Linked DNA regions of Homo sapiens. The protein of the gene in region 3 interacts with the protein of the main gene of each other region in a pairwise test. Each region holds a gene or a part of one and is shown on either strand. Other genes may lie near its edges. The genes, in order: BEND7, JUP and DDX6.

What was found.
Region 1: the proteins of DDX6 (region 3) and BEND7 interact in binary tests that used the Homo sapiens proteins (3 or more experiments, as listed by UniProt).
Region 2: the proteins of DDX6 (region 3) and JUP interact in binary tests that used the Homo sapiens proteins (3 or more experiments, as listed by UniProt).

What each region holds. Positions count from the first base shown.
Region 1 is NC_000010.11:13,522,346-13,526,095, forward strand, and holds part of BEND7 (BEN domain-containing protein 7), read right to left. Parts: intron 1-3,750.
Region 2 is NC_000017.11:41,780,039-41,783,788, reverse strand, and holds part of JUP (junction plakoglobin), read left to right. Parts: intron 1-3,750. UniProt on the Homo sapiens protein: Common junctional plaque protein. The membrane-associated plaques are architectural elements in an important strategic position to influence the arrangement and function of both the cytoskeleton and the cells within the tissue.
Region 3 is NC_000011.10:118,749,490-118,753,239, forward strand, and holds part of DDX6 (probable ATP-dependent RNA helicase DDX6), read right to left. Parts: intron 2,609-3,750; 3' UTR 1-2,608.

The DNA.
Region 1 (3,750 bases), on a different chromosome or scaffold from region 3:
TTGCCTGGCTCCACAGGGCAGAGGGGAAAGATCTTTTGAGAGGAGGCCTGGGTTTACTCCGGCCTCTGCTATTCGTGAGGTCAGGTAACTGAGCTTCGGTTCCCATCATTATAGGAATCATTATATCTGCCCTGACTACCCCACAGGTATATGGTAAAAATCCCGAGAAGACAGATGTGAAAGCACTTTCTAAACCATAAGTGCAACACTCATGGTCGAGCTATAATGATGCTTATTGGCGGCTCCCTCACCCTTCCCACCTGGAATCTTCTCCAGGGAGGAGAAATACAGGAGCGAATCTTTCCTGTAGTTCAACATCTCTGCTTTGCAGAGCCCTCCCCTCTACCCCTTCCAACTCTGCATTTGCTGTTGCCCTGATCATTCACATTTGTCATTTAATTACCGTTCACAGACAGGCGGTTAAGTGGAGTGTTCAAAGCTCAGACAGACCTGCACTGGAACCCTACCTGTGGCACTTCCTACTTGAGAGACCTTGGGCAGGTCACCTCGACATCTCTAGGCTCATCTACAAAATGGGGATGACGGTAACTCATACAGACATGCTGCAAAGAGCAAATCAGGTCTTTCATGTAAAGTGCTCAGTGTGCTGCCTTGCACACAGTTAAGTGCTCAAACAACTGTAGCTCTTACGATTGCTGAATACTGCTCCGTTTCCTGAATTTGTCCTGTCTCCTCCCCAGCTGGATCTGAATCCCTGAGAACAAGGTCCCTGTCCTATCCATTTCTGTGACTATCTCTGACCCCACTCCCATTCCAGAAAAGTGCTGAGTTCAGAGTATCTTCTATAAAGACACTGGCTGAACTGATTTAAGAGAACTGTTTCCTTTCAAACAGTGCTTAAATCTTCACTGTAGTCCCATCACAGCCAGCTTGAGAAAGTCAATGTCCACAGGGTAAAGTAACGTCTTCTGACCCTATTATCCAATTAAAAATATGTGAGTAATTCCTAAAGCACGAGGCCAAGCCATTTACACTACTGAGCTACCCTACCATGTGAGATACACTACGTTCGTTAACAGCCTAAACATGTTCCAGAGAGGTAGACTTGATGTGGGAACCTCTGCCACATTCTAGAAGACTCTTTTTCACCTAGAACATAAACTTTGATCTTATAGATGCAGATACTATTAAAGGGAACACATATGTTTGAATGTAGAAAATCCTATAGACCATCCCTGGGACAGTGTGTCAGTACTTTGTTATAGGGGAAAGAGTTCTAGTATTTTGGTACCAAACCCCCTTGGATGTCATAAGCTTCCCATATAATTCTACATCTTTATGGACAGGCTTTAGCAATTTATAAAATAAACATAATTGAAATCTTTATGTTTTGAAAAGTGTAACTATAAAACTATAAACTATAACACTGTCAACAAAAAATTCCTACTCTCAGATGCCATCAGTAACTATTCTCAATTGCTCCAGAAATCATGTTGCTGTGACAATTTCTGTTATTTTTTCTTAACTGACCTAGAGATCACAAAATAAAAATGTTATTTGGGAACCAACTACATGATGACCCAAGAATGAGCAAAAGATTGAAAATAACCCACAGCACACTCCCAGGCTGTTCAATCTTTTGTCTCTTGATGTTGAAGGCCTTCTGGAGCAACCACTTTGAAAGCGTATCTATCTCAAGCCTGGTCCTTCATTGGAATTCTTGCATCTTCCTCAACTTGGACTAGGAAGAAGAAAAGCAACAACGTCTATCATCTCTGGGAGTTTCCAGCTTACTGAATCCTGGGCACTAGCATCCTGTTGCTCTTCAGCTTCCCCTCTCTTATCCTTACAATTCACTTCCTTCGTAGTGACCTTACCACTTTTCTAGTAGTACACAACAGAAAGTGCGGGAAAGCCTGCCTTGCTGGAGAACTAAATCAAGGACATGATGTTCCCTTTGTATGGTGAACGTAAATTTTCTACTAAAGGGTAAATTCGTTATTTCGAATGGCTATATAGAGTGGTACTTTGATAATACAAAATTCCAGCTGACCAACCAGGCACGGTGGCTCACGCCTGTAATCCCAGCACTTTGGGAGGCTGAGGCAGGTGGATCACCTGAGGTCAGGAGTTTGAGACCAGCCTGGCCAACATGGTAAAACTCTGTCTCTACTAAAAATACAAAAAATTAGCCAAGCGTGGTGGCAGGTGCTTGTAATCCCAGCTACTCAGGAGGCTGAGGCAGGAGAATCGCCTGAACCTGGGAGGCAGGGGTTGCAGTGAGCCGAGATCATGCCATTGCACTCCAGCCTGGATAAAAAGAGTGAACCTCCGTCTCAAAAAAAAAAAAAAAAAAAAAAGAATTCCAACTGACCAAGTTTAGGGGACTGGAAAGACTAGAATCCAAGAATATTCTCTTTCTGGGCCACAGCATTTCACTTGATTATTAACCTTTTGGCTCCTAGCTCTCTTAACAGTAAACAGGTACTGGGAGCAGTGCTGGCCCCAGTGATATTCTTTCCCTCAGCAGAAAGATCTATGTGCTATCAATGATCGCTCATGTAAGAAATGCTGACATTTCCCTCCTATTTTTCCTCTTAAAGTATATATTAATATTTGACTTCTTCCCAATGCATCCCGACCCACCCTTTCTATCCCTCAAAGCAAAACCAGAGAGATCCTGGCGAGAGCTTCGTTTGAAGGCTGACCCACACCGGGTCTGAGCAGCAGTCCTGCTACCTGAAGTCCCCCTTGATGGGGTAATTGTGGCTTTGCTTGTAATCGTTCTCGCTCTGACCTCTCTCATGTTCTGCTTCCTTGCTGTGCAGTGCTGTGCCCTCACCCTGCTACCTGGGATTGCAGAGGTCCAAGATGGACAAGGTTGAGGCCCAACGCCACCATCTACTCTCCACCCTGACCTTATGGGTACTTCACTCTTAGAGGCAAAATCTTACGTGGTTTCATTTTTGGCTGATTGTGTGCAAATAAAAAACTGCACATCCAAAGTCTTTCCTGTACAGTATTTGCACCAACACTGCACATGGAAAAGGTGGCAATGTTTGTGGCTACCTACCCACCCATCATGCAGCTACACTTGCTGGAAAGTCTCAGAAATGCTGTTTTAGCTCTGCTCATCCCTGACGTGAGCTGGGAACAAGGATGGTAAGAGGAAAGCATGCTGTTCCCCCTGTCCCAAAATGCTGGTGTGAAAGGAGCACAAAGTCAGGAAAATGAGGAGCTGCTTGATGATAACTAGCACTATCAAGAGCTGGTTAGGCAGACAGTCACACTTTTATTTTCCTTATGCTTTTTGACTGTAGATTTAATTTAATTTTGTCATGGCAGGATTAGCAACTGGGCCACAGAGGTGAAGGGACATTATAAGACAGCACATTAATCCTCTATCCCACCCAAGGCAGAAGCAAAACCAAACAAATAGCAGCTTCCTGGAAATTGAATTTCTGTTATCCAGATGTCAAAGATGTAATACCCCAATTACACAAACTATTGCCAGTGAAGCATGCCAACGAATATGCAATGTAAATGGGGTGAGCGCAGAGCCACAAAACTGCACAGTCAGCATCTGGCTCTGTGAGTGAGTGATAATTAGCACTGTGTGTAGACACTAATAAACATTTATGTCTGAAATTACAACTTTTAGCAATGTTAATAAGGGATATATTGGCAATCTGTAAAATAAAAGGTCTTGAAAAGAATGTCATACATTAAGCAATGGCAGACATTTCCCGTTCCTGAACAATTTCCTTTTTTCCCCCTAATTGCAAATGG
Region 2 (3,750 bases), on a different chromosome or scaffold from region 3:
TGCCACCACCCCCGGCTGATTTTTGTATTTTTAGTAGAGACAGGGTTTCACCATGTTGCGCAGGCTGGTCTTGATCTCCTGACCTCGTGATTCGCCCGCCCCGGCCTCCCAAAGTGCTGGGATTACAGGCGTGAGCCACCTCACCTGGCCCAAACCAAGCACTTTCATTAACTATTTTTACTTAATCCTTATGGCTGGCCAGGCTGGATGGCTCAGACCTGCAATCCCAGCACGTTAGGAGGCCCAGAAGGGTGGACTGCTTGATTGAGCCCAGGAGTTCCAGACCAGCCTGGGCAACATGGAGAAACCCTGTCTCTACAAAAAAATAGAAAAATTAGCCGGGCGTGGTGGTGCATGCCTGTGGTCCCAGCTACTGGGAATGTTGAGGTGGGAGGATTACCTGAGCCCAGGGAAGTCAAGGCTGCAGTGAGCTGTGTCACTGTATTCCAGCCTGGGCAACAGAGTGAGTCCCTGACTCAAAAAAAAAAAAAAAACAAAAAAAACGCGTATCATTATTCGCATTCTACAGAGGAGGAAATTGAAACTCAAGGAACTTAAGTAATTTCCCCAATGTTGTACAGCGAGACCCAAGCAGCACCAAGACTGACGTTTGGGTCCTCTGATTCCAAGCCCAGAACCCATCCTGCTGTATTGCCCCATGCAGCTCTGGAAAGGATTTTTTTTTTTTTTTTGAGATGGAGTCACGCTCTGCCACCCAGGCTGGAGTGCAGTGGCGCGATCTCGGCTCACTGTAACGTCTACCTCCTGGGTTCAAGCGATTCTCCTGTCTCAGCCTCCCGAGTAGCTGGGATTACAGGCATGCACCACCACACTAGGCTAATTTTTGTATTTTTAGTAGAGATGGGGTTTCACCATGTTGGTCAGGATGGTCTCGAACTCCTGACCTTCAGGAGATCCGCCCGCCTCAGCCTCCCAAAGTGCTGGGATTACAGGTGTGAGCGGAAAGGATTTTTCTGCACCCCCTTTTGAGAGCCTCTGCCTGACTGGGGAGAAGAGAATTCAGAAGGGCCCATGAAGGCATGTGTGAGTGGTGAATGTAGGGCAGGTTTTGTAGGTGGGGGTGATACCTGTCCTGGCCACCAGCCCACTTAAATCTCCCCAGTGGCTTGATTTTTAGTTTCCGGTGGAAGCGGCTTCTCCCCAAGGCCAGGGCTGTGGTGAGTGTTGGGGGGAGGTTGAGAGGGAAAGAGGAGGCAGGGGTCAAAGCTGTGCTGCCTCCTAGCTTGGGTTAGGTAGAACCATGGCTGTTCTGGGCTTGTTCATGTGTAGGAAGTGGGAGTTGCCTGCTTTGCTGGGGGCTGGGGCTATGCCAAGATAAAGGGGTGCTGCCCTGTGGGGATTGGCGAGAAACGAGAGTCCGATTTAGGCCTGGGCTAATGTCCTGCTGGAGTTGACGAGGCAGTGCTGCCAGGCTGCTCTTGATGGGGAACTGGCTGTCCTCTGCTCTGAAGCCCAAGAGACCTGAGATAGGCAGCTGCTGGGAGGGCTTTTCTGGTGATGGAGGTGGGGGTCATGTGTGCTGCCTGTCAGCCAGAGCCTTGGCCCTCTAGGGAGGAGCTGGTGTCAGATTGTTCTCCAGACCTGCCTGGTTCTGGTGTCTCTGCCAACTGGACATCTGACACCAGAATGGGCCTGGATTTGGGGTCTGGGAAATGGGTTCTCTTTATGTGATGGTGCAGCCGGAGTACTGAACCTGTCACTACCGCGCTTCTGGATTCCCTGAGGGCAGGCGGGGACCCCAGGCAACGGGATTATTGATCGTGGAGAAGGCTAATGGGACTTGAGACAGAGAAGAAAACAGAATGAACCCCATCCCACTGACTACTACAAAGAGGGCATGAGGTTGCAGTTTTTCCATCTCCCCCGAGGACTTGAGAGCTGCAGGCCCGATGCACTTACTGAAGGGACGCAGTCTAGACAGGAGGAGGGGCTTTCTGCCTGCTAAAGATGAAATCTTGAGTTGAGAAATAAGAGGGAGAGGTGGAGACTCAGCATTGACTCTTCTCTGATGAGGGCCATCCTGTGCGGCAGGGAGGCCAGACAGGAATTGCTGCCCTTTGGGGAGACTCCTCATTTGTATCTTTTGGGAGAAGAGCGACCTGGCAGTGAGAGGGAAAGGCATCTGTGAGCTGGTCCTGTGACCCCTGTGAAGAGGAAAAGCAAGCAGTGTGGCTGGGCAGGTCACCAGGGCTTGTGTTCCTGCAAGTGACACTGAGCGGCCTCTCCTGGGACATGGTTGAGTCTGGGGACATGGAATATCTTATTGTGAAGCGACTTCCTCTGCCAGGCCTGAAGGGCAAGCTCATGGACCACTCTCCTTTGCTCAGCCTCCTGGCATCTTGGCCTTTGGGGCCAGCAGAGCAGGAAGCTCAGCTTTCTTTTTCTCTTTCTTTCTTTCTTTTTTTTTTTTTGAGATGGAGTCTCTCACTCTGTCACCCAGACTGGAGTGTAGTGGCACAATCTTGGCTCACTGCAACCTCCATCTCCCGGGTTCAGGTGATTCTCCTGTCTCAGCCTCCCGCGTAGCTGGGACTACAAGCGCCTGCCAGTACGCCCAGCTAATTTTTTTTTTTTTTTTTTTTTGAGACGGAGTCTCACTCACTCTGTCGCCCAGGCTGGAGTGCAGTGGCACGATCTCCGCTCGCTGCAAGCTCCGCCCCCTGGGTTCACACCATTCTCCTGCCTTAGCCTCCCGAGTAGCTGGGACTACAGGCGCCCGCCACCACGCCTGGCTAATTTTTTTGTGTTTTTAGTAGAGACGGGGTTTCACTGTGTTTGCCAGGATGGTCTCGATCTCCTGACCTCATGATCCACCCGCCTCGGCCTCCCAAAGTGCTGGGATTACAGGCGTGAGCCACTGTGCCCGGCCTAATTTTTGTATTTTTAGTAGAGACGGGGTTTCACCATATTGGTCAGGCTGGTCTTGAACTCCTGACCTCAGGTGATCCACTCACCTTGGCCTCCCGACATGCTGGGATTATAAGCGTGAGCCACCGCTTTTGGCACTCAGCTTTCTTTCCTCCTCCCTTCTCCTCTTCTCTTTTCTTTCTTTTTTTTTTTTGGTTTGTTTTTTGAGATGGAGTCCTGCTCTGTCGCCCAGGCTGGAGTGCAGTAGTGCAGTCTTGGCTCACTGCAACCTCTGCCTCCTAGGTTCAAGCAATTCTCCTGCCTCATCCTCCTAAGTAGCTGGGACTACAGGCATGCGCCACCATGCCCAGCTAATTTTTGTATTTTTAGTAGAGATGGGGGTGTCACTATGTTGGCCAGGCTGGTCTTGAATTCCTGACCTCAAGTGATCCACCCACCTCAGCCTCCCAAAGTGCTGGGATTACAGGCGTGAGCCACTGCGCCCGGCCTTCTTTCCTTTTTTTGAGGTAGGGACTCGCTCTGTCCCTTAGGCTAGAGTGCAGTGGCGTGATCACAGCTCACTGCATCCTTGAATTCCTGGGTTCAAGCAATCCTCCCGCCCAGCCTCCCAAGTAGCTGGGTCCACAGGTGTGCACCACCATGCCCAGCTAATTTTTAAAGTTTTGTGTAGAGACAGGGTCTTGCTATGTTGCCCAGGCTGGTCTTGGACTCCTGAGCTCAAGCATTTGTCCCATCTCAGCCTCCCAAAGTGCTGGGATTATGGGCATGAGCCACCATGCCCAGCTGAAGCTCAGCTTTCTGTGTCTTTCCCTACCATGGAGACAGTAGCAGGGACCAGAGCAGAGTTGGGACAGGGGCTTG
Region 3 (3,750 bases):
GGTGTCCCAGATAGTTTAAGTGCCACTCCTCATTAGAGGCTATACTTCAGTAATACTTTCCATTTTAAGTCTGTGCTTTAAGAGGGACCCACAGGCATGTGGCACCACGCAGTCTAAAGTTGGTGAAGGAGACTGCACTTTTTGTTTAGTCACCCACACGTTCTCTAGCGAGATACAGAATTGCATTTATACTCTTTTCTTCTACATGAATGATCCCTCTTATCTCGCAAGAGGTGGGGGAGAAAGAGAGCTGCATCGGTACAAGGGCACAATTTTTTTGGTCAAAAGTTGACACCTTTTAAATTCCCTCTCCCACCCCTCCCTGGAAAAAAGTTACTTCCTTAATTAGGTTTTCTATTTAGTAACCAACATTGACTGGACAGAAAATATGAGGCTTGGGTTCCAAATAGATGAGCTTGTTCTTTTTTGGGTTTGTACCGTGCAGTTCTTGCTACAGTTGTTAAGGAGTTAGGGCTATGTCCCATCAGGAGGCATCTGTAGGATTTTGATCTCCAAGGAATTGTGGGTGAGTCGCAAATAGTTTGCTCAGAAGTAGGCAGAGTCAAAAAAGCAACTTCAAGTAATTGATTCCTTTGTCCAAAAGAGTTAAAACATTAAAGTATATGCGGGACTTATTTTGTAATATTTTAGGGTTTTGAAAAATAAAATATGGAAATCAATTTTTTTTAATTTTGTTTTTTGCTTTTTTCCCCCCCTTTCCAGATGCCTCCTGATTGACCTAGTACACTGGGTTAAAAGGGAATTAAAAACATTAAAAAAAAAAGTTCACTGGTTTTGATTCATCTCACTCCTTTTGCCTGGAGATCAGGCCAAACATCAAGCATGTTGGGAGGGGCACAATTTAAAGCAACACTATTGACTGTAAAGCATCTGCCAGCAATTTACAGTGCAAAATGACAGGTAACAATTCTTGTCACAATGCAAGAGAATGGCAAGCAGCTTTCTGTAGCATGAAAGTTAACAGCTCTCAGGTTGCCCATTCCTGCAAAAGTTTATGTATCAAAGCGGGCAGAGGGCAACACATTTACACACTACAGGAAATGATCCACAGAAAATTAAGCTCCAGAACTGCTAACATTACCAAAGCTGGTACTGGCTAATATTCTGAAATGCAAATCTGTGCTTTATATATATACTGCTCAATGACACTGCCACTCAATAGAATTCCTACACTGCAAGGTAGATTAATCTTTGCCCCCTGTTGCAGAGCTTGAAATATTCCTCAAACTTTTAGAAAGGGGGAAGAAGCAAAATCAGAGCTTCTCAAAATAAATGTTGAATTATCAATGTTTTGAAGCTTCCTTGCTCTCTCTGGTAAACCTACTCCAAAGGTACTAGATGAGACAGTGTGGCAGCAAACAGTACATCCCAGATTTCTGGGCCCCTTTACTAACACAGGGTACCATAGAAATCTGCTCTCTACAGCACGAGGCCAAAGTACTTTCTAGAATTTAGTGTTGCGTAAAACTGAGCCCCTCTCATCTTTAGCTGCTCCCATAATCACTCTAATCCCCTTAATCCCAGCAACCTTCATCCAAAAAAAAATATATATATATGTATATATATATATATATATGAACCCAGAAAAAAAACTTATTTACAAAGTTATACAAGTATACACACCCAATTTTCTATGGGACACGCTTTGCCACAGAGGAAAGAGGGCCAAGGCTCTGACATGTCTACACATCAAGTGCCATACTACTACTGGAGGCATATGTAACCCAGTCTTTAGTGTCTGCTATAGAGCACAAAGGCTTGTCATATGGCTCCTGCAATGATAGACTGCTCTTTCCTTTGGGAGCGATGATGTTTTTTATCTACTCAGCCCAGAAGAAATTTTTACTTGGGATTGTTTTTTTAAATACATGTATTTACAGTGCGGATGAACTGCAGTTGCATATCAACTCCTCCCCAAAAAGAAAAAAAAAATGGTGTTTAACATTACTAGTGAGTTTCAACTTCTAGCCCTGGGCTCGAGTACTGGGTAGAAAGGGAAGAGACTTCAACCTGAAACCAAAATAAGAAGACATTTTTTAAAAGAAAAAGAAAAAAAAACGGAAAGAAAGAGTTACTATTGTTGATTCCTCGGGCTGTGTCTAAAAGATGATATTCTGAATGGTCTCATAGCATAAGGCACTTCGCACAAATAAGTAATAAGCTCTTCAGGCTTAAAAAACGGATGAGGAATCAGGGAGAAGTTGAAATGCACGAGAGTCAGCTGTTGGAGAATTTTGAAATCATTGACAAGCTTGTGTGTTCATTAAGATTCTTCTCTTTTTAGGGTTTCTCCCCTTCTCTTCTTTCTTTTCCTTCCTTGTCCCCTTTCCCCAGAAAACATTTTTTAAAAACCAGCAGTTAGTGCAACTAATGTTCAGTCAGCACACAGTGCAAACAAGTGGAACAAAAAAGGTATATTCCTTCTTTTCAGCCTTTTTCTCTTCACCAGTTAAAAAAAGAAAATGTCTGAGCTCTTTTAAGTCTTCATAGTTCCAAAATAAAAGATGAAAAACCCACAAAGAGAGGAGCATTCCCCCCAAAACGATGTGTCACAGATCCAAACGAGCCTTTTGTAATTTGTCAAAGCCTACAGAAGAAGAGAATACAAAATTAACATTCTGAAAGCAACACAAACTAGGATACATAGGTTTTCACAATCCTCATCCCAAATGCTCTTTTCTAGTAGTTTCTACTAACCCTGTGCCTACTATAGAATCTACTGGTTATAGGATTAAATAATTTCTGGTAGGCAACCCTGAGATAGATTGGGGGCCTGAATGAATGTGAATGTTCTGATAGCAGGCAGCCCTCACTCGTAACAAATCCGGGGGAAAAAAATTAACCTTACACAAACTGAATACTCTGCCAAAGTACTAGCAAACATTGGCTAGTTTCATGCTTGTCCAAGAGTTTGTGTTTGATGTTTAACTTAAGGAAAAAAAGAGTACAGAGTAATTTAAAAATTATTTAAGTAACAATTGGTTGGGTGAGGTGGCTCCTGCCAGTAATCTCAGCACTCTGGGAGGCTGAGGTGGGCGGATCACCTGAGGTCAGGAGTTTGAGACCAGCCTGGCCAACATGGTAAATCCTCGTCTCTATTTAAAAAAGAAAGAGAAAAAAAATTTAAGTAACATTAGGTTACTTAAATAGGTAAGATGTTCACCTATAACTTGGAAACTATCCTTTGTCAAATCAGATTTTCTTTAGGAAATACTGAAACAACCTACCTTGCTTAAAGCTGAGCCTTGTTTCATGCATTTCTAACTAGAGCCCAATAGTCACCAAAAGATGATAGAGGCAGGGCGTGGTGGCTCACACCTATAATCCCAGCACTCTGGGAAGCCAAAGTGGGAGGATCATTTGAACCCAGGAGTTTGAAACCAGCCGGGGCAACATAGTGAGATCCCATCTTAATAAAAATAAAAAAAAGATGGGAAGACAGGTTGTCCAGGAAATCAGAGTGGGTATTTTATTTATGTATTTGACGGAGTTTCACTCTTATTACCTAGGAAATCAGAGTGGGTTATTTATATATGAGGCAGAGTTTCACTCTTATCGCCCAGGCTCGAGTGCAATGGCATGACCTCGGCTCACTGCAACCTCTGCCTCCCAGGTTCAAGAGATTCTCCTGCCTCAGCCTCCTGACTAGCTGGGATTACAGGCGCCCGCCACCATGCCTGGCTAATTTTCTGTATCTTTAGTGGACACGGGGTCTCACCAGGTTGGCCA